Linked DNA regions of Homo sapiens. The protein of the gene in region 3 purifies or fractionates together with the protein of the main gene of each other region. This does not show direct contact. Each region holds a gene or a part of one and is shown on either strand. Other genes may lie near its edges. The genes, in order: TUBGCP3, TUBGCP2, SCAF11, TUBGCP4, RPRD1B, NEDD1 and MRPL3.

The links.
Region 1: the proteins of SCAF11 (region 3) and TUBGCP3 purify together in Homo sapiens (affinity purification with mass spectrometry; one large-scale study listed by BioGRID and IntAct). This does not show direct contact.
Region 2: the proteins of SCAF11 (region 3) and TUBGCP2 purify together in Homo sapiens (affinity purification with mass spectrometry; one large-scale study listed by BioGRID and IntAct). This does not show direct contact.
Region 4: the proteins of SCAF11 (region 3) and TUBGCP4 purify together in Homo sapiens (affinity purification with mass spectrometry; one large-scale study listed by BioGRID and IntAct). This does not show direct contact.
Region 5: the proteins of SCAF11 (region 3) and RPRD1B purify together in Homo sapiens (co-immunoprecipitation; one large-scale study listed by IntAct). This does not show direct contact.
Region 6: the proteins of SCAF11 (region 3) and NEDD1 purify together in Homo sapiens (affinity purification with mass spectrometry; one large-scale study listed by BioGRID and IntAct). This does not show direct contact.
Region 7: the proteins of SCAF11 (region 3) and MRPL3 purify together in Homo sapiens (affinity purification with mass spectrometry; one large-scale study listed by BioGRID and IntAct). This does not show direct contact.

What each region holds. Positions count from the first base shown.
Region 1 is NC_000013.11:112,550,154-112,553,653, forward strand, and holds part of TUBGCP3 (gamma-tubulin complex component 3), read right to left. Parts: intron 1-3,500. UniProt on the Homo sapiens protein: Component of the gamma-tubulin ring complex (gTuRC) which mediates microtubule nucleation.
Region 2 is NC_000010.11:133,291,873-133,295,372, forward strand, and holds part of TUBGCP2 (gamma-tubulin complex component 2), read right to left. Parts: intron 1,898-3,500; coding exon 1,690-1,897; intron 1,367-1,689; coding exon 1,167-1,366; intron 817-1,166; coding exon 627-816; intron 176-626; exon of another isoform or gene 1-175. UniProt on the Homo sapiens protein: Component of the gamma-tubulin ring complex (gTuRC) which mediates microtubule nucleation.
Region 3 is NC_000012.12:45,935,075-45,938,574, forward strand, and holds part of SCAF11 (protein SCAF11), read right to left. Parts: intron 1-3,500. UniProt on the Homo sapiens protein: Plays a role in pre-mRNA alternative splicing by regulating spliceosome assembly.
Region 4 is NC_000015.10:43,377,601-43,381,100, reverse strand, and holds part of TUBGCP4 (gamma-tubulin complex component 4), read right to left. Parts: intron 3,255-3,500; coding exon 3,198-3,254; intron 1,018-3,197; coding exon 938-1,017; intron 1-937. UniProt on the Homo sapiens protein: Component of the gamma-tubulin ring complex (gTuRC) which mediates microtubule nucleation.
Region 5 is NC_000020.11:38,085,746-38,089,245, reverse strand, and holds part of RPRD1B (regulation of nuclear pre-mRNA domain-containing protein 1B), read right to left. Parts: intron 2,550-3,500; exon of another isoform or gene 2,400-2,549; intron 1,384-2,399; exon of another isoform or gene 1,235-1,383; intron 1,138-1,234; exon of another isoform or gene 826-1,137; intron 1-825. UniProt on the Homo sapiens protein: Interacts with phosphorylated C-terminal heptapeptide repeat domain (CTD) of the largest RNA polymerase II subunit POLR2A, and participates in dephosphorylation of the CTD by RPAP2. Transcriptional regulator which enhances expression of CCND1.
Region 6 is NC_000012.12:96,945,257-96,948,756, reverse strand, and holds part of NEDD1 (protein NEDD1), read right to left. Parts: intron 3,065-3,500; coding exon 2,908-3,064; intron 1-2,907. UniProt on the Homo sapiens protein: Required for mitosis progression. Promotes the nucleation of microtubules from the spindle.
Region 7 is NC_000003.12:131,489,472-131,492,971, forward strand, and holds part of MRPL3 (large ribosomal subunit protein uL3m), read right to left. Parts: intron 610-3,500; coding exon 510-609; intron 1-509.

The DNA.
Region 1 (3,500 bases), on a different chromosome or scaffold from region 3:
TGCTGTTCAAGGAGCCCACAGCAGAAGCAGCCTGCAAGGGATAAACCTGTGTTCTTTCTCATTCAGTTTTATCCAGCAAAACTCCATCAAAAAATTTTTTTTAATTGTTTTTTAAACTTGTTTTCTTTAAGTAAATATGTAGGTTGCATACCTTTCTGTATATTTTTAAAATATATCAGCAGTCACCTATAGGTGTATTTTACTGCATTTATGGTTTGTGGACTAAGACAAATGTGAACATTTTCAAGTATGAAAATGAACATAAAACATACTAATTTTGTAGACACAAAAGGACACGTCAAAAGTGAGGTGTGCAAGAAGAAACGTCCTAGAGTCTGGAATGAGACAGACCAGGGGGTAAAAATCCAGGGCTCCCGCTGGAGGTACCGCCACGTGTCAGCCCCTGACGGTATGAACCTCTAGGCTCATCTACAAAGGGAGGAAGAATAAATGCGGTAACGTAGGGCAAGCGCCTGGCACAGTGTGGGCACAAAGGTGCTTACTAAACCATAGGTCAGTTTTCTTAGGTAATATTTACAGAGAAAACGACATGGAATCTGCTCAGGCACAGCATCACTCTTTACCAAAACTCCATCCCAGCCCCAGGGCAGGAGAGCAGACACATAAACACATCAAAGCTTTGAAAAACCTGCTGAAATATGCGGCCAGGTGCGGTGGCTCACGCCTGTAATCTCATCACTTTGGGAGGCCAAGGCGGGCAGATCATGAGGTCAGGAGATTAAGACCATCCTGGCTAACACAGTGAAACCCCGTCTCTATTAAAAATACAAAAAAATTAGCCGGGCGTGGTGGTGGGTGCCTGTGGTTCCGGCTACTCGGGAGGCTGAGGAAGGAGAATGGCGTGAACATGGGAGGCGGAGCTTGCAGTGAGCCGAGATCGCGCCACTGCACTCCAGCCTGGGTGACAGAGCGAGACGACTCCGTCTCAAAAAAAAAACAAAAACAAAACCTGCTGAAATAATCAAATCATTATCCAACGTGTAGAATCTAAGTATTTATATACAGGTGTATGTGAGTCAGCTTCTGAGAAGTCTACAACCAAAAGAGTGGAAGTGCAGGCAGAGCGCGGCAGCGCCACACACACTCAGAGGGAAAAGGCCTGTGGTTAGCAGAGGCTGTTTCCACCTTGGTTCATTAAATGCACATGTAAGTTTCACACTTACAAAACAGTATCTTCATTCATATATGATTTTGCTCCATTTGGTATGTCTAGAGCCAGGACACCTCCAAGGCTAATTGTGGGCACTGGTAATACTGACACAGGACATAAATTATGCAAGGCATAAATTAGGGCACACGGTCACCCCACTGAGAGCACACGCTGGCTCTTCAAATAAGATAAATAAACCATCACTCCTTCAGCAACTGGATGGCACCAAGCAATGACTCCAAACAGCAGGAAATGGAAGAACAGAGACAGCTTTGGAACAGAGTGACACGTCACACCCTAGTCCATACCTGCCATCTACTAGTCAGGGCAACTTGGTCAAATCAATCAAACTTGCTGAGGTTCAATTCTCACATCTGCAAAATGGGGACAATTAATGCTTGCCCTGATCATTTTAGAAGGCTGCTATGATAATCGATAAGGAGAAAGAAGATAAAAGAAGAGCCTCTAAAGTCCAGTACTATAAACAGCAGTCCCCGACCTTTTTGGCACCAGGGACTGGTTTTGTGGAAGACATTTTTTCCACGGACCAGGGTGGGATGGGGGGGCAGAGTGGTTTTGGGATAAAACTGTTCCCACCTCAGATAATCAGACATTAGATTCTCATACGAAGCATGCAACCTAGATCCCTTGAATGCACGGTTCACAACAGGGATCACACTCCTATGAAACTAATGCCATCACTGATCTGACAGGAGGCAGAGCTCAGGCGGTCATGCCTGCTCGCCCTCCACTCACCTCCTGCCGTGCGGCCCAGTTCCTAACAGGCCATGAACCAGTACCGGTCCACAGTCCAGGAACTGGGGACCCCTGCTATAAAACATAATATGATACTACTATAGTGATGATCAATCCATCTCCTGGAATAAAATATCTACATAATGGTTTAGTTATCCTGTATTGATTTTGTGTGTGTGTTTTGCTTCATGTCTATCAAGTTGACTGGGACCTATCAGTGACACTTGCATAAGATGATGATATAAACCCAGACATGATAAAACACTCCCTTCGGGAAAAGGGACAGGGACTCTAAAATTACAGCTGGCTCCTGAGGGGACGGCCCACCAGTCCTACCTGCCTCGAGAAAGAGCCAGCTCACTCCTATCTGCCCTTGCAATGAGGGAGAGTGGTGGCTGGTCATCGAGCAATTCACTAGACTGGCAAACAGAACAGAAAACAGTACTAGACTGGGAAGCAGCATCTTTATACGCATTCTCTCCCCACCTTCACAATCCTAGAGGTAATCACTACCCCACTCTATGCAGGAAGAAACTTGTGGCCAACAGAAGATAACCTGGGCAAGATGACGTGACCATTACAGGAGAAGCCCAAACCAGAACCCTGGGCTGCCTCGCTTCAAAGCTCAAAGTGTGATGCCTACTCAGCAGCCACGCTGCCACAGCACACTCCTCCCCACCAGCCACGCTCCTCCCCACCAGCCACGCTCTTCCCCATCAGCCATGCTCCTACTCAGCAGCCACACTGCCACAGCACACTCCTCCCCACCAGCCACGCTCCTCCCCACCAGCCACGCTCTTCCCCATCAGCCATGCTCCTACTCAGCAGCCACGCTGCCACAGCACACTCCTCCCCACCAGCCATGCTCCTACTCACCAGCCACACTGCCACACTACTCGCCTACTCACCAGCCACACATTCTTACCCACCACCCACACTCCTCCTCACTAGCCACATTCCCAACCACCGGCCATGCTCCTACTCCCAGCCACGTTCTTACCCACCAGCCATGCTCCTCCCCACCAGCCACACTGCCACACCACATGCCTAATCACCAGCCATGTTCTTACCCACTAGCCACACTGCCACACCAAGTGCCTACTCACCAGCCACATTCTTACCCACCGGCCACGTTCCTGCCCACCAGCCACACTACAGCACCACACTCCTCCCCACCAGCCATGCTCTTCTCCATCAGTCACGCTCCTACTCACCAGCCACCCTCCTACCCACCAGCTACGCTGCCATAAGTCCTGTGCTACGCTGAGCTTATAGTACACAGTTGTTCTGTGATTCAATAATTTTTGGAGATTTCATTGGCAGTAATTACTGCCCAATAATCAACCTATGGACAAGACCACATGCTGCTTAGCCACAAAGAAGGGCTGGACAGTGGAGATGCCACGGCTCCTATTAGCTGCCCCCTGTCAGGCTCCAACAGGAGGAGAAGCAGCAGCAGCTCCCTCCCAACCATGCACTGTGCCATCGGCAGTGCCCACCCAGGGCTGTCCAGACAGCCATAGCCAGGATTCCCATCTCCAGCTTCGGCAGTGTTCCCAAATCCTGCCTCACC
Region 2 (3,500 bases), on a different chromosome or scaffold from region 3:
CTGTACGGGAGAGGGCAGCATGCACCGTCCGTGTCCCCCATGTCCCTCCGTGTCCCCCATGTCCCTCCGTGTCCCTCCGTGTCCCCGTGTCCCGGGGAGCCCTACCTGTACGGGAGAGGGCAGCACGCACCCTCCGTGTCCCCCATGTCCCTCTGTGTCCCTCCGTGTCCCTCCGTGTCCCCCATGTCCCTCCGTGTCCCCCGTGTCCCTCCGTGTCCCTCCGTGTCCCTCCGTGTCCCCCATGTCCCCCATGTCCCCGTGTCCCGGGGAGCCCTACCTGTACGGGAGAGGGCAGCATGCACACTCCGTGTCCCCCGTGTCCCTCCGTGTCCCCCATGTCCCCGTGTCCCGGGGAGCCCTACCTGTACGGGAGAGGGCAGCATGCACACTCCGTGTCCCCCGTGTCCCTCCGTGTCCCCCATGTCCCCGTGTCCCGGGGAGCCCTACCTGTACGGGAGAGGGCAGCATGCACACTCCGTGTCCCCCGTGTCCCTCCGTGTCCCCCGTGTCCCCGTGTCCCGGGGAGCCCTACCTGTACGGGAGAGGGCAGCATGCACACTCCGTGTCCCCCATGTCCCTCCGTGTCCCCGTGTCCCTCCGTGTCCCCGTGTCCCGGGGAGCCCTACCTGTATGGGTCGTGGATGATGCCCCTGTAGATCCACTTCTCCAGAACCTCGAAGTAGGGAGCACTGGCCGCCTTGGTTAGGTACAGGCATAGCTCCTGCGCCTGGCTGTCCCCTGTGTAGCTGAAGCTCCTGTCGTGGAGCAGGCTCAGCGTGGACCCCCCAAGACATTCGCCTTTGTCCACCGAGGTGGCTGTGGGGAGAAAGGAGGGCTCACTGCTGAGAAGGAAGCGCACGCCCAGCCTCTGCCAACAACACTGCTGGGGCCCCTCATGCTTCTCCAACCTTCTTCCTGGGACGGTGCTGCTTCTTTGGGATACGTATTAACTGTAAGGTTGTAGTTGCTGATTTCAGCTGACCAGTAAGAGCTTCCAGGGCTTTCCTCTTGCAAGTTAATAGCACATGGAGCAACATGAGCTTTGGCCACACGCCCCTGCCCTGGGCAGCTGCTCCACGGCCCCTGCAGAGTCTCTCCTCACACTGGGTGCCATGTTCAACACCTGCCACCCACCACTGCCCCATGCCCCCCGGGCGGGCACGCACCGAGGGAGGCCAGGATGTCCATGGTGCGCATGGCTGGCTGGATGTAGAACCAGAGCTTCTGCAGCGAAAGGAGGCCCTGCCTGTGCAGCTGCTCCAGCTGTGACACCAGAATCAGGTGCTCCTTCACCAGGGTGCGCATGGCGGCCGCCAGGGCGTGGTTCACCTGCCCGTACTCGAAGGAAGACTTCTCTTCAATGAACCTGGAAGAAAAGCTGTCAGACTTCCTCAAAAAGGCAAGCTGCAGGCACATACAATGTCCGATATTCTGAGTCTCATCCCAAACAGGAAGCAAATGACTCACTTGAACCCCACATCCCAGAGGGGAACTTTTGCCCCAGGAGGAGATGAGTCAGGACCCTGGATGGTGACTCACAGACCCTCCAAAACTGAGTTGGGCACGGAGTTGTCACCAAGGCGGGCGCTCTCTTTAGAAGCGATGCAGACGTCCCCATGGTCATCAGGATGGGACCTAACCCCTCCCCCACAACAGCGCAGGCTCCCAGGGACCGCGCCCGGTGCCCACCTGGTCACAGCGGAGTAGCTGGCGGCCACTGGGAGGATCCTGTGCACCAGCTCCCTGATGGACAGGTCCAGGTTGGGGTCCACGAGGAAGGTCCGGCTCTGCCTCCCAGCCAGGGGCTGAGCACTGACGTACCTCCCGTCCACGCCCACCAGCACGTACAGCAGGTCCTCCACCACGGCCGACTCCTGCGAGGCCAGGGGCAACGTGCCTGCGGGCACAGACAGCGCTGTGGCTCTGCAGCCCCCACTCCCATGCCCCCACAGCCACGTGCCCTCATCTGCGGGTCAGTCTCACTCTTGCTCATCTTTGTTTATGGGTATAAAAGGTCAGCCACTGCACTTGGCTTTGACTGACCCCACTGGGGAGCCACAGGCTGAGTTCCAACCGCCGCAGGACGGGGCCGGCCTGGGAGGCGTGGTGGCTGGTGTCAAGATCTCACCACACTCGGCTCCGCAATGCTCAGATACATGGCTGACATTTGAAAAGGTGAAGTTAGGAGTTGAAAAGGCGACTCCAGCAGAAGCTGCACTTTCAACATTGGTAAGTACAACTTGGTAAGTCTGAGTTACTCTGGGACAAAAAACCTTGTCTTTAAAAAGCTATCACTTAAACGTTAAGAAACTCTTGATAATTTCTATCCAGAGAGGATGAGACGGCTGCAGGACACACAGCTAAGCTTCCTCACGAGGACGGCCACGGGCCGCCACCCACCAAACCCCTCAGGTCCCAGGACCAAGTTCTCAGTCCACAGCCTCAGGCGGGCCATGCCTGGGGGGCCGGGAGGAGCACCAGACGAAAGCAGGATGTTGAAACTGTCCCCACGAGGGCCTGACAGGGCCCCGTGCCAGCCAGACCATACCCAAACCAGGCCCTGGCAGCTCAGGAAGGCTCCGTACAACAGGCTTTCGGTTTACAAAATCACTCTGTCAGCCTCACACATCTGCTGGGAAGTGTCCTGTGACTGCAGGCCTCAAGACTACAATCCGTCACCAACGCAAGCCCTTCAGCGAAAGCCTCAATCCTGATGCAGATCCACACTGTCCTTGTTTTTTTTTTTTCCTTTTTTTATTTTTGAGACAAATCTCACTCTGTCACCCAGTCTGGAGGGCAGTGGTGCAATCTCAGCTCACTGCAGCCTTGAGCACCCAGGCTCAAGCGATCCTGTATCCTTAGTCTCCCTCGGAGCTGGGACCACTGGCACGTGCCACCATTCCTGGCTAATTTTTAAATTTTTTGTAAAGGTGGGGTCTTGCCGTGTTGCCCAGGCTGGCAGATCTACACTTTTCAACTTCAAATTCCATTTCTTTCTATTACTCCAGTGGCCTTCTCAGGATGACCAATAAAACCGAGACCCCAATGTCTACCATCCCTAAAGGAGTGGGTGTGGCTTGGCGTTTTGGGAACAGCGAGTGCATCTTCCAGGAACTGCCTCTGACTCTGCATCACTTACTTTCCACCATGTTGGCCTCATTCATCCACAGCCACGAAGCCTCGGCCAATGCCCTTGTGGGGAGAAGCCTCACGGTGGGGTGGAGGTGCCGTGGGGTGGGGGTTAGTGTGGATCCAGCCGCCTGGCTGTGGAGGGACCTCAAGGGTTGCTTTAGGCCGGGTATGGTGGCTCACACCTGTAATCCCATCACTTTAGGAGGCCAAGGTGGACAGATCGCTTGACTCCAGGAGTTCAAGACCAGCCTGGGCAACACGGCGAATCCCCGTCTCTACTGAAAATACAGAAATTAGCTGCGTGTGATGGTGCACACCTGCAGTCCCAGCTACTCGGGAGGCTGAGGTGGGAGAATCACCTGAGCTTG
Region 3 (3,500 bases):
ACGTTGGTGGCTGCATTGCTTATGACTTGTCCACAGTGCATATGACAACTGCCTTTTAATTTTCCCCCTTGCTTGCCTCACAAAGGGCCTATTGACATTGTTCAAAATAAATCACACTAACTAGGAGGCTTGTTTCCTGCACTGCAAGATCATATGTATTTTGGTTTACTTCTGTTAGTTCAGTTGGTAATAGCCTACTTTCTACTTAATAGCATACTAATTTCCTTTTTAGTTATTATACAACAGCTGTTTGGTTTTGCACAAGTCCCTCTCAGAACTACTGTAACAAATGTAATTTCAATGTTAGTGGAAGACGAACAGGCTGAGTTCCGGAACTTACTGCCTTACCCCTTTGAAAATCTGTATCTAAAAGATGATACGCTGATTTTTTAAAATGGCTTAAGAGGCAAGAAGTAAAAATGTGTGGTAGGTACACAGATAACACTCTTAGAAATAACCATGTTCCTTCAGCTAGACATAGAATTGCTGTGCTATACCTACATAGTGTCTTTTATGCCCTAAGGATGCTGAGTTGTTTTGTTTCAGGTTGCATTCACTCAACACTTAACGAGTATGTAGTGTTTACATAGCATTCTTTCATTTGGAAACCTATCTCAGAAAGCCATCATTAGATAAAATGCTCTCTACTGAAAGAACTGTTAGTTTTCTCTGAGCAATGCTACATGTGAAAATCCAGTTCAAAAGCTGTTTCACATATTTCTGGGTAATTCTCAGGTAATTACTCAACAGCTTCAATGGCAATCTCTAAAGTATTCGATACTGGTGAATTTGTCTAAATTGTGGTTTCCTGAAGATCGTTTCACAAATCCACCCTACTTGTCTGTTTTTGGTGGGCAGTGATACGCCTTTTCATTTAATTTTTATCAAAGTAATGCATGTACATACTTTAAGATGTCAAACAGTACTTCCAAACTTATAAAGAAAAATTATGGAAATACCCACTCTTGATTTCTGCTTCCCCAAAGCACTCATCAAATCCTTTGGCTGTTTCTTCTAACATTTACTTATTACTAAATAACACCCTTATACTACTCTATGTGTGGTTTTTTTTGTTTTTTTTTTTTGAAACAGAATCTCGCTTTGTTGGCCAGGCTGGAGTGCAGTGCCACAATCTCGGCTGACTGCAACCTCTGCCTCCCAGGTTCAAGCAATTCTCCTGTCTCGGCCTCCTGAGCAGCTGGGACTACAGGCGCACACCACCACGCCCGGCTAATTTTGGTATTTTTAGTAGAGATGGGGTTTCACCATATTGGTGAGGCTGGTCTTGAACTCCTGACCTCAGGTGATCCACCCACTTCGGCCTCCCAAAGTGCTGGGATCACAGGCATGAGCCACCACGCCCAGCCAGCTTCATTCAGGTATTTTCCTAGGGTTAATAATGTCTTTGTTTTCTCTTTTCCTTTTCTTCCTTATTATCCATCATTAATTTAGCTAACTACAACAAAAGTATAAATCTGAGTTTAATACACTCAAACACAACAACTCATCCATAAGGTTTGTTCCCCACTCTCCTGGCAAAACTCTTTCTTTGTCCTGGTCCAATATGAACTGGTAACTCTCAAAGCTGCTGTTCAATAGTCATTTTGGGATTGTCCTTTGTCATTATCCCAATAATCCTCTTTGTCCTGTTTAATCTTTTCCTGAGTTGGAACTCATTTTCTGAATCTCACATTGTTCTTCCATTTACTATCTCATTTAGTGAAGTATATACATACATCCTCCAGCAGAAGTGGAAAAGGGTGGGAATTCTGAGTTAGTGCACGATGGATAGTTTGATAGGTTATAGAATTGTCTAGGTTAGTAATTATTTTCCCTAGAGTTTTCAAGGCATTGCTTCACTACTCCAACTATTGTTGATGACACTCTGTAACCCCAATCCTCTATGTGGTCTGTTTTTACTCTCTCTCTTGTCATCCTCAGACTTCTAGAACTTTATGAAGTATTTGGTATGATTTTTTTTTCATTTACTAAGTATTATATTATTTCTTCATATCTGGACACCTGTGCTCTACTATTACGGAAAAAATTTCCTTTGTATTACTTTTTTAAAAATAAATTTTTGCATTTTTCCTTCCTGAAATTTTATTATTCGATATTGAATCTCTTAAATGAATATCCTATCATCTCTTTTTTAGTCCTACTTTGAGACTTAAGAACTTATCTTCTACTCCTGTTGAATTTTTGTATTTTTGCTGTAATATTTTTAACTTCTGAAAGCTTTTTCTTAAATATTATTTTTCTTGTATCATTGATAAAATATCCCTTCTTTCAGGCTTTGAGGATATTAAGTTTTTTAAAGTTATTCCCTATTTTTCAGCATTGGGTCTGTCCCATCAGGTTGCTTTTGTCTTTGTTTTGATCTCTATTATGTTGATTTTCCTCAAACATCTGGAGATCCTTGATTGTTTGCTGGACACTAAAATATTGATTGAAAATGGTGTAGATGGGTGGTCAGAGCCTTTCAGCTAATGTGTTTCACTGTAGGGTGATCAAGCAGACATCTGGTTACTTCATTGGGAGACTCTCAAATGACATTATCTTTAAGTCTTTTCTTTTGGGCAAGTCAGTTTTCCAAAAGATGTCCCTTATTTCCTACTTTGGAAAATTATAATAATCAAGACTGCCAGTGCTTTGAAAAATGCTCTTAGGTAGAGGACTAGAAGCCTCATCATTTGACTTAATTTCCCTCTCTGTTGTTTCCTGTACCATCATTTATGCTAAAGTTTAAATCTGGTTCAAATACTCATTTTAGAGTGTAAATCTCCAGTCTTTCATTGGGTACTCCCCTTCCTCTACCCACAGCCAGGAATCTTCAGGATCTAAAGATTTTTAACCAATTCTGTTTTCCAAAACCACCCCATATCTCTGCCTTCACAGATAATGGAGGCCTCCAAACTCAACTTGCTAAGGTTTGATGGTATGTGTACTGTCTTGAGATTCTTAACTCCATTCTTCCCATGAAATGTCTATGTATCAGCTTTCTGCTAAGACAATTTACCATCCCCCTCATACTGTTTTACTTTCTATTTTGTGGACACTTATGTGCTGTCCCCCTCTCTCCAGCTTTCTTGTCTTTGTGGCTTAAACTTTGTGGCTTAAAACTCTTCTTTCTGGCCAGGCACAGTGGCTCACAACTGTAATCCCAGCACTCTGGGAGGCCGAGGTTGGCGGATCACCTGAGGTCAGGAGTTCGAGACCAGCCTGGCCAACATGGTGAAACCCTGCTCTACTAAAAATACCAAAATTAGCCGGGCATGATGGCGGGCACCTGTAATCCCAGCTACTCAGGAGGCTAAGGCAGTAGAATCACTTGAACCTGGGAGGCGGAGGTTGCAGTAAGCTGAGATTGTGTCACTGTACTCCAGCCTGGGTGACAAGAGCGAGACTGCATCTCAAAAAAACAAACAAACAAACAAACAAAAAACACACTTTTCTTTCATTCCTTTATTGTCATTTTAGTAGAGATTTGGGATGAGAGG
Region 4 (3,500 bases), on a different chromosome or scaffold from region 3:
GTGCGGTGGCTCACACCTGTAATCTCAACACTTTGGGAGGCCAAGATGTGAATATCGGTTGAGCCTAGGAGTTCGAGACCAGCCTGGGCAACATAGCAAAGCCTTCTCTCTACAAAAAATTAAAATAAAATAAGAAAAAAAGAACAAAACAGAGTTGTGAGTGGCCTCAGGGATCATCTATTATAATTTTTCAATGAATGTCACAGTTTTTTTAAAATAAGGAAAATGGATAAATGGAAAGCTCAAACAGGCAGTCTTTGATTATACTCTACATGTTTTCATATTGTTGTAATCACAAGATAAATACAATTTTGTATCATTTGTCAGTACATATTTATATAAAATAGTTTACATGTTATAGTACCTACACTTTTAGTGGCTTTATAGTCTATCAAGTGAATATATCATCATTTAAATTTTTTTCTACTGTTGGTAATTTTCTAATTTCCTGATATAGTAGACAACATTGCAATGAACACGTTTGTGCATATAGTTATTTTCTTCTATTAAATAGTTTTGTTAGGATAAAATTCCCAAGAGTGGCATTATGGGATTATAAAGCATAAACATTTTTAAGGACCTTCAATTTGAAAATACCAGCTACTCAAATACACATGTTTAGACACAGCAAGCAACATCTGGCACATGTAATGGAATTCCTGCAAGGATAACAGGATCTAAACATTTAAAAAGATTGCCTCAAGGTCATCCAGGCACCTAAATCCTGGCTTTGTCACTCAACACTCTATAGCCCTTTTTGCAAGGCCTGAGCCATAATAAAGGTTACATGGGCTCCTCTGCTCATGGAGCTTTTTCTATCCTGGTTATAACCTTCCCAAGAGGGAAACCTGAAATGACCTGAAAATAAAACATGTGAGAAGTCAAATAATTTGACCACCCACCTCCACCACCAATTCCCAGTTAAGCCATGACTTACTTTTCCAGTGCACTTCGAACAGGAGGCAACCCCCCACAGCTGTGTTTGTAGACTGTTTCCAGGATTTGACAACCATGAATCTGTGGAAAATACGGCCTTGTCAAACTGGATTCCATTCTAAGAGTCCATGCAAGACACATTCTTATTCCATATTCAACCAAGAGGGCACAATCTAGGAGAGACTGGGGATAAACTTTCTCCTAAGATTTACACATAGTGGTTCTCAAAGAGGGACCTCTCTCCCATCAGCAGCATGACCTGGAGACTCATCAGACATGCAAACTCTTGGTTAGAACCCAGCACTCAGTGTTTCCACAAGCCCTCCAGGTGATTCTAATGCACAGTAAAGTGTGAGAACCACTGCACTTAAAGCAACCAGAATCATTTAGAGTTGGAACACCAAAGCCAAGGAAAGCTTTTTATTTCAAGTTAAGGCCCAATTCAGTCTACTTCTAAGGTATATACTTTTTCAAAAATCCTCTGCCTCTATGTTCTTCAGACTTTTTTTTTTTTTTTTTTTTTTGAGACGGAGTCTTGCTCTGTCGCCCACGCTGGAGTGCAGTGGTGCAATCTTGGCTCACTACAAGCTCTGCCTCCTGGGTTCACACCATTCTCCTGCCTCAGCCTCCCGAGTAGTGCGACACAGGCACCCGCCACCACGCCTGGCTAATTTTTTTTGTATTTTTAGTAGAGACAGGGTTTCACTGTGTTAGCCAGGATGGACTCAATCTCCTGACCTCGTGGTCCGCCCGCCTCGGCCTCCCGAAGTGCTGGGATTACAGGCGTGAGCCACCATGCCCGGTCCCCAGACTTTTATTTTTACCACTTTGAGGTATAATTTACAATGAAATTCACCCATTTTAAGCATACTAATAAACAATTTTTAGTAAATTTCAAACACTGGGCAACCATTACCACAATCCAGTTTTATAACATTTCCACTACTCCAAAAAGCGCCTTTGTGCCTGTCTGCAATCAATCTCCATTCTCAACCCAAACCTAGAATTTTGACCACCTGATTTTAAAAACTCTGAAGAGCCTTGGTACACTAGTTTCTCTACCACTATTCTGGCAGGGAGGAAGATTCAGCCATCTGCAATCCCCCTATTTTCCACTCTCCTTCCTATAGCCAGCGGAAGTTGAAGGCCAACTGAGACGTGCAGCTAGGCCTGGCTCCCTTATGCTGTCCTCATTAACTCTATTTGCCTAGAATGTCTCCTTTTATTTTGGGAGATAGTTTAATCTAGTGGTTAAGAGCACACTCTTTGGAGCCAGATAGAGCTGGGATATAAACCCATTTACTACTATCTGTGTGACACTGGGCACACCCCTTAACCAACTTAGCCCTTTAGTGGATTGTGTGTGATAATGTATTTAAAGCACTTAGCACAGTGCCTAGTACACAGCCAGTGACAGTAAAAGCTGGATGTTGTTATTTGATGAGGACAATCAGCTTTGAAGGGCCAATGAGCACCCACCACTGGCTTTGCTGGCACAGCATGAACATAGCAGAGCACTGTTTCTACACTTACACAGTTAAAAATGATGCAGCAATGTGGCAGATTAACTGGTTTACTAGTTACATTAATGAAAATGAACACCCCTAATAAGCTAAGGCACAAATAAAGAGCTTAAAAAAAATGACGACTTGAGCTAAAGATGTTTAATCCATTTGTCCACTTGGTCCAATTGTGGACCAATTCAATAGGACAGCAGATTCTTCTAATATGAAATCTCAAAGCATTTATTCCTCAGACTTATTAACTCTGCCCAGAAAGACATTCTCCTAACTTCTCAATACACCTGATAAAAACTTGTGATAAGAATAGGCATATTTATTAAACATCTGGCTTTCACTCACTGATCTCAAAATTCTCAGAAAACTGCCAGCACACTAACCATAAACCTATTACCTTCTTCCTAAGAATTAACTTTCTGCTTCACACCCAACAGTTCTAAAACCTTACTGCAGGTTCCTCTCACCTGCAAACATCCACAGCACTTTTTTTCTTACCCCAACAACATTCTTGGGAACATCTATGAACATTTCCTCTACCTTCTGGACCAGGAGGTGTTTAAAGGCAGAGTCATACTTTTGCATTCCTGACACTTAACATGATAACCAAGCAGATATTGTTAAATGAATGAATAAATAAAAACTACTAAAAACTAGGGTCTTCGAAAAATAATGTAAAGCAAAATTAATTAGTAATATTCCCTCAGTGCTTAGCAAAGCAAAAGGAATAAGGAAAGTTCTCACCTTTTGACTTTTAATTTGTTCTACTACAACCATCACAGAGGGAAAAAGAAGCTGGAACTGCAAAGTAGAGAATAATTAGAAGGGTATGTAATCAAATGTAAGGGAAAAAAAATCAACTTGGGAAATGCTTTTGTTTCTAAATAGTTCAACTTAAGATAAAATGGCAATACCACAGAACAGTCAAGATCCAGCATCCTAAGGCAATTTGATGTGGAGGTTCGCTGCAGATAGGAAGAGGATGGCAGAGAGAGGCAGTTTCTTTTTTTTCTTTTTTCTTTTTTTTTTTTTTTTTGAGACAGGGTC
Region 5 (3,500 bases), on a different chromosome or scaffold from region 3:
TACCCCACTGCTACTCCCTGTGACCAGGGCCTCCTCATTCCATAACTGAGTCACTGCAGTAAGTCCCTGGTTAGGCCTCCTGACCCCTAGGGCTCCTAAAATGCCACCAGACTTCTCTCCCAAAAGCCCAGCTTTCATGAAACCACTCCCTTGAGAAAGTGAGGCACGGCACCCCACTAGCTCCATGATCTGGTCCTTCAGAGCAGAGTTCAAGGTCTTACAAAATCAGCCCCTGCCTCACAACCTCCTAACCCTCTTTGTCTGTGTGGACCATTTTTTCAGGATTCCCCGCAAGCCTGGAGGGGGTCTCTCTCTTCTCCTAGCCCTAGCAAAGCCTGGCCTCCACTCCTCTGCTCCTTGGACTATCTGGACTCCACCTCTCTAGGAAAATCCTTGCTCTGCATCCAGGAGACGACTCCGCATCTCCTCCTGCTCCAGAGCTCTCCCTCACACAGGGTGTGTACCTGAGCCCCTAGCAAGCTGCTCTATGCTCTCTCCATACATGTGAGACTTCTATGTTCCTCTAGAATATGAATCCCCTAATGATAGGAATGGGGCATATTTTTTTTCTTTCCTCAGCTCCCGGAAAAAGGTACTCTTGATAAATCTGCCAAGATATATAGAAAACAACCCTAGGCCATGTGAAGTCTGGGGCTGTTGGCCCCCTTGGGGCTTAGTTTTTGTCCTCTCAGTGTCTCTGCAAGGGTAAGTAGGTCCCTGACGCTGGGCCCCTGCTGACTTAGAAAGCCCTTCCTGCAGGAATGTAACAAGAAGCCCTGGGCTGAGATGCAGAGACCTAGGCTTGGTCCTGGTTCTGCCTCTAACCTGCTGTGTGACCGTGGATGTGTTCCCTTCTTCCATATCTGAAAGTGAGGGAACTGGACCATAACACTTCTTTTCAAGTTCTAAATTCCTTGATACCAGATCCCTGATGCACACCTGAAGAGGCAGAAAGTAGAAGCTAGAGAATGTCTGGGAAGAATAATGAGGCAGGAAAAAGGTCAAATGGAGAATACTTAGTTCAAGTTGTAAAGACAAAAGTCCAAGCAAGGAGTGAGAGGAGGGAACCAGGCATATCCTCTCCCCATTACTGCAGGCAATCAGTCTCCCACCCGCAATGAGAGCTCCTCACACAGTCTACAAAGGAAGAGAAAAGGGTAGAGAGTGAGCTCTCCTAGCAGCCCATTTCTTTTCTTTGTAAACTTACCACAACTAAAATTAAACAATGACTTACGTAAATGATTAGCAATGACTCCCACATTTAACTAGTAAGCTCCTGGAGGCCAGGACCAGACCCATCTGCTTCCCCCAGCATCCACCAGGCTCCGCAGTGTCCAGCAAACAGTAGGCACCCAGCACATGTGCCGAATGAATGAGCCATATCTAAAACATAACATCAGGTAAAAGCATACCACATGAAGTAGCTCCTGAGACTCAGACTTTGGTTAACAGTCACCTTTCACGTTCCTGAAGTTGAAAACTATTTTCAAATTTGAGGATCTGAACCCCCTTTCTCCCACAAGTACTTTTCTTCTTTGGCTGTTTATACTTCAAGGGAAATTAATATAAAGGATGAAGGCAACTAATTCTCTATTTCTGGACACGGATTCATCTAATAAACTTCTCCTGAATGGAAGGTATAAAAAGGGTAAAATAACAAAACAACTACAGAACACGGACTTCCTGCCCCCTGCCTGAATTCTCTGACCAAAGCTGACAAATCAAAGCCACCTCGACTCAGAACCAACCACTCTTGGCAACTAGGGAGCCCTTCAGTTGAAGGAGTCCCTCAAGAACAATTTGAAAACCACCAAGTCTCTAGAAGCTGAGCTGGGATCAGAATCCAAGACTCCTTACTCTTGGGTTATCATCAGACCAACGTGGCAAGTTCATTGAAGTTAAAATGGAAGGCACTTTGCTCTAATTAGACACCACCTTAAGTTCAACTAACTCTCTCCTAGGCAATTTCTTAAAAATCCCAGTTGTGGCCAGGCGCAGTGGCTCATGCCTATAATCCCAGCACTTTGGGAGGCCGAGGCAGGCAGATCACCTGAGGTCAGGAGTTCAAGACCAGCCTGGGCAACATGGTGCAACTCCATCTCTACTAAGAAATACAAAAGTTAGCTGGGCAGGGTGGTGGGTGCCTGTTAATCGCAGCTACTCAGGGGGCTGAGGCAGGAGAATTGCTTGAACCCGGCGGGGCAGAGGTTGTGGTGAGCTGAGATTGTGTCACTGCACTCCAGCCTGGGCAACAGAGTGAAATTCCGTGTCAAAAAAATAAACAAAAAAACAAAAAAAACCCCAAAAAACCAAACAACAGTTGTTTCTGTTTGGAAGGGGGTATAGGGTGGGGTACGGGGGATTCCATCATGCTTAGGCTATTATATTCTGGACATTACCGAAGAAACTCATTTAACTAAAAAGAAATGTGTTCCACTCTTCAGGCCACTCTGGAAGTGGACGGATCCTGCCCAGAGCTCTTGATGCCACTGGGTGACTCTTCTCGCAGGGACGCCTATTGTAAGAGCAGGCGTCAGAGGAAGGAATCACTAGAGAAAGAAAGAGGGAGAGTGAGACTGTCACTGAAAAGGATTAATAAACATCAAGGCTGGCCTGGGCATGGTGGCTCACGCCTTTAATCCCAATGCTTTCAGAGGCTGAGGCAGACAGACTGCTTGAGGCCAGGAGTTCGAGACCAGCCTGGGAAATAGAGACCCTGTCTCCACAAAAAAATGAAAAACACAAAACACTGAGGCTGGTAAAAAGAAAAGATCTGTAGGCTAAGAGGTTTAAATGTATTGGCAAGGATAACCGGGTATATACTCTGAAAAACCAAATACAGGCAGCAATTGCCTTTAAAACTGTTAAAACATGTACCTGCTTAACTGGGACAGTCAAATGACCCAGATTAATTTCCTGAAGAGAGGCAAGCAGGCTCGAATTCATGGCAAGCTCTGATTAGGTTAAACTGAAGCTATAGTAATTTTTATAGTCCACTAAATAGACTCAAGTAGTAACTACTGTGATTTCCCACTCCCCATCCCTGCTTTTAAAAACAGATTCAGGCTTTCCAAACAAAGTCATCTGTAAACCTTGCCATGGACCAACAGAAGAAATTAACAGTGACTCCAGGCTAGACAAGGTGGTTCACGCCTGTAATCCCAACACTTTGGGAGGCTGAGGCAGGTGGATCACTTGTGCCCGAACATGGCAAAACCCCATCTACAAAAAATGCAAAATTAGCCAAGCGTGGTGGCACATGCCTATAGTTCCAGCTACTCAGGAGGCTGAGGTGGGAAGATTGCTTGAGCCCAGGAGGTGGAGACTGCAGTGAGCCAAGATCACACCACTGCACTCCAGCCTGGGTGAGAGTGAGACCCTGTCTCAAAAAAAAAAAAAAAAAAAAGACTGACTCCAAACAAAACTCCCCCAAATACAACTCCAGCCTTCACCTGCCTCCAAATTCTCTGGTTCTTAAGCTCTCTCAGTTGGGTCTTGCA
Region 6 (3,500 bases), about 51 Mb from region 3:
TAAAGGCAAACTGGAAACAAACTAGTGCTAAGAAAACCTGAACCTAGTAACCAAAGGATCAAAGGGATCTGCTTGCCAAAAGAAACTTAAATCTTCTTAATAGACAACAGAAACAGATGCACAGATTTCCACTTAGGATGTATTAGGTTGGTGCAAAAGTATAATTTCTCAACTCTAATAACGAAAACAAACCTGATAACCTATAAAATCATATTATTTTAAATTCAACCGAGAGCTGAGAATGGAAAGAAATCTAAATGAACTAAAATCCAGAAAATGAGGAGTTCCTCTTAGGAGAAAAGAGACCCATGACTAGGAGAAAAGAGACCCATCTTCATGCCCTTGACAGAGTAAAAAGAACTAGCTGAAATTTTAATAAGATTTTTAAAAGCCAAGTAAACACTGCTTGATAGTTTAGAATTCCAAGGGGTCCCAGCCACAAGGAGAGTCTCAATTTACTCACCAACTTTTTCCCACAAGCCTTCATTCAGCGCTCATGTAAAAAAAGTAGGGACAAGTGTAACAGGAGGGCTGAGGGAGACTCCCTAAGATACAGATGCACAGAGCCTGGTGAAACCTTAGGGCAGCAGAGAAGAACTGAGAGTAACCCCTCTAAGGCACTCCAGGCTCTCATGGAGAAGATGGCAGCCACGGGAGGATGGCTGAGAAAGAGGTCCTCAATACCCTCTCTGTCCTGCCAATGATAGGTGTAGATGAACACCTAGTCTGATGAACACCTAGGCAAATGGCAAAACAAGTGAATTTATGGAAATCCTCTGAGCCACTCTGGGTCTTCACTGCGTCCCAGGCAGAGGCTGCCTATGGTCAAAGGGCAGAAGAGCTGAGAGAAGTCCCTACCCACCACTCCTAGGTGCAGACATGCAGCACAGGGCAGCAAAACCAAGAGGCACTGACTGTACGTCTTCACCAAACGTGCTGCAGCAGCTCTGCAGGGCTGAAAGTGGGACAGACACACTTCTCCTGAGGCACAGAAAGCCAGGAACAGGTTAGATAGTGAAAAACAAGCTCCAGCCACCCCGAAAGCTGGCAGCAGGGCAGAAATGCACAGCGATTTCAGAGTTGCTCCAGCACTCAGATCCCTGGGTCTGCTGAAGGAAAGGCCCTGAGCCCACTGTCCTCAAATCATCTGAAGCCAGTGGTGAACTGACACCCAAATGCTTGTTGAATAAATGGGTAATAAATAGACAGCACCCATTACTCCTGTGCTTAAAAACTCTGATGGCTCTCCATTACCTGTGTGTTAAGACCTTCACAACTGTCCCTCAGGCCTGGTCTCTTACCACGGTGCCTTCTCTCTGCAAACATTCCTAGAATGTATGATCATGTCTCTGCTCAAGCTGTTCCCACACACATCAGTATAAAATAAAATCTCTTCAGTGTACCTTTCTAAATCTGCCCCCACAGAAGAACTGCTCCCTTTCTGTGATTTCAACATCACTTTGCTCACACTGTATTATAGTCAGCTGTATCCAGACAGTTCTACTATTATGCCATAAATATTTATGCACTCCTGAAAAAAACGTATATTCTTTAACACTGTGTATTAAAAATAACAGAACTTAGGGAAAAAGGATTAGGGCAAAGCACTCAAAAACCTATGCAACTTTGTAACCAGAGCACAACAAAAACAATTAAATCCTAATAAAAATACTAACATAGTTAAAAAGACATAGTAAAAATCTAATAGATAATTATTGAATAATACCCTTACTGTGAAGAAGTGATGGTCACTTAATGGAAGAGGATAGAAGGATTGCGGCTATCAAGTTACAGAGGCAAGAGCAAAATGCCCAAAGATGGGAAATAATCACAAAATAAGTACTTCTAACAGACCACACAGCCAAGCCAAGAGGAAGTGAATAAAAAGAGATGGATGCTGACGGGGTTTGCTGCATTCAGCTGTGTTCAGGTGTACTTTATTTTGGCTGCTATTACACGAACAAACAAAATTTCCTCATCATATTGTCAACAGTGTTCTATTCTACTGATCCCAAATGAATTAATTCACATTAAGAGAAACACACATGGCAGAACACACTGCACCTAGCCCAACTACATCACAAGGCCTTTGTGGCAGATCATTTGATGTATCCTTAGTATCTGGTACATATACTAGGTAGGGTAAATGCCAAAATTACAATTTTTCTTTAAAAAGTATTTTTCGACATTTAAAAATATATTTTAAAAGTATTTTAAAACATTAAAAGGAAGCATGCACCAACAAAAACTGCACATTTTCTCCAACATTCTTGCTTACGGTAATCCAAATCTGAGCTACAACATTAACTATAGGTTAGAAAGGAAAAAAGGCACCAATGATTTTAATAATTGAAGATAGCTTCCAAAAATATTGAGATGATAAAAGAAAGCAGCATTGTAGAACACATTCTTAGAATGTTCACAATTCGAAGGATGAGACAGACAAGGATAAGTCTGAGAAAGAATTTTTTTTAGATTAAGTATTACATTCTGATGCATTCTATTGGAAAACATTCAGAATTGTGCTTTAAAGTATCTTTTTCTACTACATTATTGCACACAGCATACCTAATAGATCTATGAACATACTGCAGGTTAAGAACCCAATTTAAGCTTACCAGAACTTGTCCACATTTTAATAATAAAAAAAGTTCACAATGGCAGTCTACCTGCTAGACTGCCCTGCTGAGTTACCTAATAATTGCCCTAGGTAAATGTGCCTTTTCCTGGCTCATAATCAATAAATGCAGTACGAAAAGATCAACAAAACTCATTATGTTTTCTATGGCTTTAGGATTACCAGAACCTAGACAATAGTAACCAACAACATTATCTATAGTTCTGGTTTTACATCTAAAAAAAAAACAAGTAAGGTCTAGATAGAAGGAGTAGTTTCTCAATTACTACCTAAAGTCATCCAACGTTTCCTGTATCATGTTCTGAATAAAACGAATTTGAATGGAAGTCAATGGTGCATTTTGCCGGTTATTTCCAATGCTGTCGGCTATTTTTTCTGAGAGTGAACTGGCAACTCCAGCAGTGACAGAAGATGCTATCTTTGGATCTAAAATAAAGAATGAAGAAAATATTAATAGTCAACTTGGACTGAGAGACATCAAACATTTCTAAATAAGATTTGGCATGTGCAAACTTGAAAAACTGGCAAAGAAGAGTGTTCCTGTGACATTTAGAAAAATTCACTGTCTGGAATACAAATCTTAGAAACTTTCTATAACATTATTTCTAATAGTCATTTATCTATATATATAAACTGCCAGCTGTCTAATGTAATACCACATGACAGAGGGATTAATCTTGAAGAATCTATGAACCATTTCCTCTTATAAAAGATGAATGTGACAAGCTGCACCATAAACTAGATAAACCAAGACTATTAAAAACAAACCGAAGGAAAATAGGAGTAAAGTACTGCTACAGGAAAAGCCTTAGAGTTTAAGCTAATGCAATATATATCCACAGAAAACTTCAAGCAAAATATA
Region 7 (3,500 bases), on a different chromosome or scaffold from region 3:
AAAATGTTATATTTTGCTAACCATATGAGCCAATATAATCATATGCCAAATCTTTACTCTTTGACAGTCCACGGATTAGGCAAAATATCTTGGAAATTTTAAGTAAGAATCTTTACATTGAGGTGCTATGGTCGGTCCCTTCTGTTATTATATTTTCTCCAGTTCTTCTACCTAAGCAAGAGCCTGGCTATTTTTCATGAATGCCAGCCTGTGAACAACGATCTTTGAATTTTAAAAGTTAGTGTATTTCTTTGAGGTGGCTTTTTCAAATATTAAACTCTCTCTACATTAAAAACAAAAGTGTTCCTCCCTCTCTCACAGAAAGCAAAGAGTTATCTACAGGTTTTTCCACTAAAAAAAAAAAAAAACAAAATGAGATACAGTTTTGTATTTAAAAGTAAGTGTTTGAGACTTTGCATTTTAGATGTAGCTTTATTGAAAGGGCTGACATTAAACAAATTGCATATTTGGGTATTTTTACCTCCCTCCTCTCCCCAACCTCAAATTACCTGGTTTAATTGCAGCATTATCTGTTATATTAAAGATTTTAACTGTCTGTTTCGGCGGCAATCCAAGTTCCCGGTAAAATTCCAATATGGATGTAGCTTTCTAGAGGAAAAGCAGCACATATAAGTAATACATTGAATATTAAAAGTGGAATTAAATGCATGGAGATCTAAACCAAGTTATTAACACCCCAGAAAATAAATCAAAGCATACCTTATTCCTTAATGAACAAAGGGCACCCAATTCCCCTTATTTAAGGGAGGTGAGATTTATAGCTATATTTTATTACATCTCTGAATAATCTTACTATTTAGATTCCAATCATGTACATAGTGTTCAAATATAGCACACTGGGAAAGACCTCTGTTCTGCAGGAAAATAGAGAGTTGTGCTCATATTTAAATTCTGACTGGAGACTGTCTGAATTAAGAACCCAAACCCCGAAAAATCAACTCTGCCTATTCTGCACTTATTCTAAACTGGAAGAAAACACGGTATGTTACATTTAAATGTTATGACCACAAACTTCAGAATCTCAAATGTGGCCTGCTTATATCTAGAGATACCTACATATCTCTGGTTAAATCATTTTCACACTCTATAAGAAAACTAAGTCACATCCTTTTCTAAAATCTTCAGCACTGTTTCCTCTTCCTCCCTTTGAGTTGATCAAATAAAAGAATTAAGAGAACTTCTCCATGCTTTTACCAAATTGTCTATACCAGCACTAATATATTAACAGTACTATCCTCCCACCCCACTCTAGGTTACACATGAGATGCACATGGAGAGCTTCTGGAAAATGCCAACGGCAAGGGCCCTCTGCTTAGAGATTGTAATTTCACTGTCTAGTGTGGGGTCTAGGCATTGCTAATTTTCAAGCACCTCACATGATTTCTATGTCAAACTGGGGCTGGAAATCATGCTGACAGATGAGCTCTCCATACTTTTATTAAAAGCACTAATTCCCACCCCTTCTCACCTATTCAATGGTTTCCTCCTGAAATTGTCCCCACTCTCTTCTAAGAAATCTTCATTTTTTTCCCCTTTCTACTGGAACTTCCTATCACTATATATAACATGTCACAATAATTCACATATTAAAACAAACTTTTTCTTGACCACATATTCTTTAGCTAATTTTTCTGTTCCCCCTTACAGCAAAGCTCCTGGAAAGACTTGCCAAGTCTACTTTCTCTCCTCCCATTCTGTGAACCCAGTTTAATCAGCACTTTCAGCTCCTAGCACTCAATGCAAAGTGCTTGTCATTCACCAAGGATCTCCATACGGTCAACCACACTGGTTGATACTCATTTTACTGAATCTACCAGCAATGCTTAACACAGGTGACCACTCTCTCCATGGAAGACTTTCTCTTGGCTTCCAGTTACTACTCTCTCGGTTCTCATATATGTGAATGTCTGCACATTTCTAACTTCAATTCCAAATTCTACTTTGAACTATACATTCACATGTCCAACTGCCAAGTCATTATCTCCACTTCAATGTCATATAGAAACTTAAGCTTAACGTGTCTAAAACTGAACTCAACTCCCTTCACCAAGCCTGCCCTTCCCAGGCCTTCTTCCAAATCTCAATAAAAAAGGCAACTCCATAATGCTGCCGTATAGGTCAAAAATCTTATGGTCACCCTTGATTCTTTTCTTCTTCACATTCCATGTCCCATTCATCAGCAATTCCTCCAGACTATTTAAAAATATAGCCCACGCCAACCACTTACCACCCCATCCCAATGTCAACCTCATCCACTATCTTCTGCCTGGATTATTTCAATAGCCTCCAAACTGGTCTCCAAGCTTCCACCCTTCCGACTCTCTAGTCTGTTCTCAATTCACAGGCTGGCATTATCATTTTAAAACTCAAGCCATATCATGTATCTACAGTGGCTTCTACTTCTTACAGAATCAAGTCCTAAGTCCTTACCATGGTTTAAAATGTTCTACACAATCTGACCTCATCTTTTACTCTCCTCCTGACTCACCCTGCTTCAGAAAAAATGCACTCCCTTATTGGCCCAAGAACACATCAAACACTAGCCTCAAGACCTTTGCGCATCCTATTGCCTCTGTCTAGAATGCTTTTCTGCCATATTTTTGCATGACTGGCTCCCTTACTTATTCAGGTATCAATCAAAATATCAACTTACCTTGTCTAATTACTCAATCTGAAATAGCATCATTTTTTGTCACTTATCCCCTCAGCCTACTTTTATTTTATTAAAGCATATTATTTTATTAATACCAGTTTTTTAGGCATACCAGGAAGCTTCCGAGAAAAATCCTTTATATTTTTAGTATTACCCTTCAAAGCATTTATCTCCATGTGTCATGATACACATTTTTTACTGTTTCTATGTCAGCAGTACCCAACCTTTTCGGTACCAGCGACTGGTTTCATGGAAGACCATTTTTCCACAGACCAGTGGAGGCAGCAAGAGGGATGGTTTCAGAATGAAACTGTTCCACCTCAGATTATCAGGCATTAGAGTCTCATAAGGAGCATGCAACCTAGATCCCTCGCACACACAGCTCCTATAGGGTTTGCGCTCCTATAAGAATCTAACGCTGCCACTGATCTGACTGACAGGAGGTAGAGCTCGGGTGGTAACTAATGCTCACTCACCTGCCATTCACCTCCTGCTGTGCAGTTCCCATTCCTAACAGGCCACAGAGCAGTCTACAGCCCAGGGGATGGGGACCCCTGTTCTATGTAACAGCCTCCCCATTTCACCCCCAAACCTACCCAAATCTAAGCTTCCTGAAAGCAGAGACTTGCTTTAGTTGCTGCTATATCCCCAGCTCCTGGTAGAACCTGCTGTCTGCTCTCCACTCCTGCCTTCTGTCCTGCTATTGTAAATATCACTACAACCAGTGTCACTAAAAACAAAACCTATGGACATCTTATTTTCTTATAATTCCTGGGTCTTCCCCCCACCTTAATTCTTAAGACTCGATATAGATTGCTATAGGACT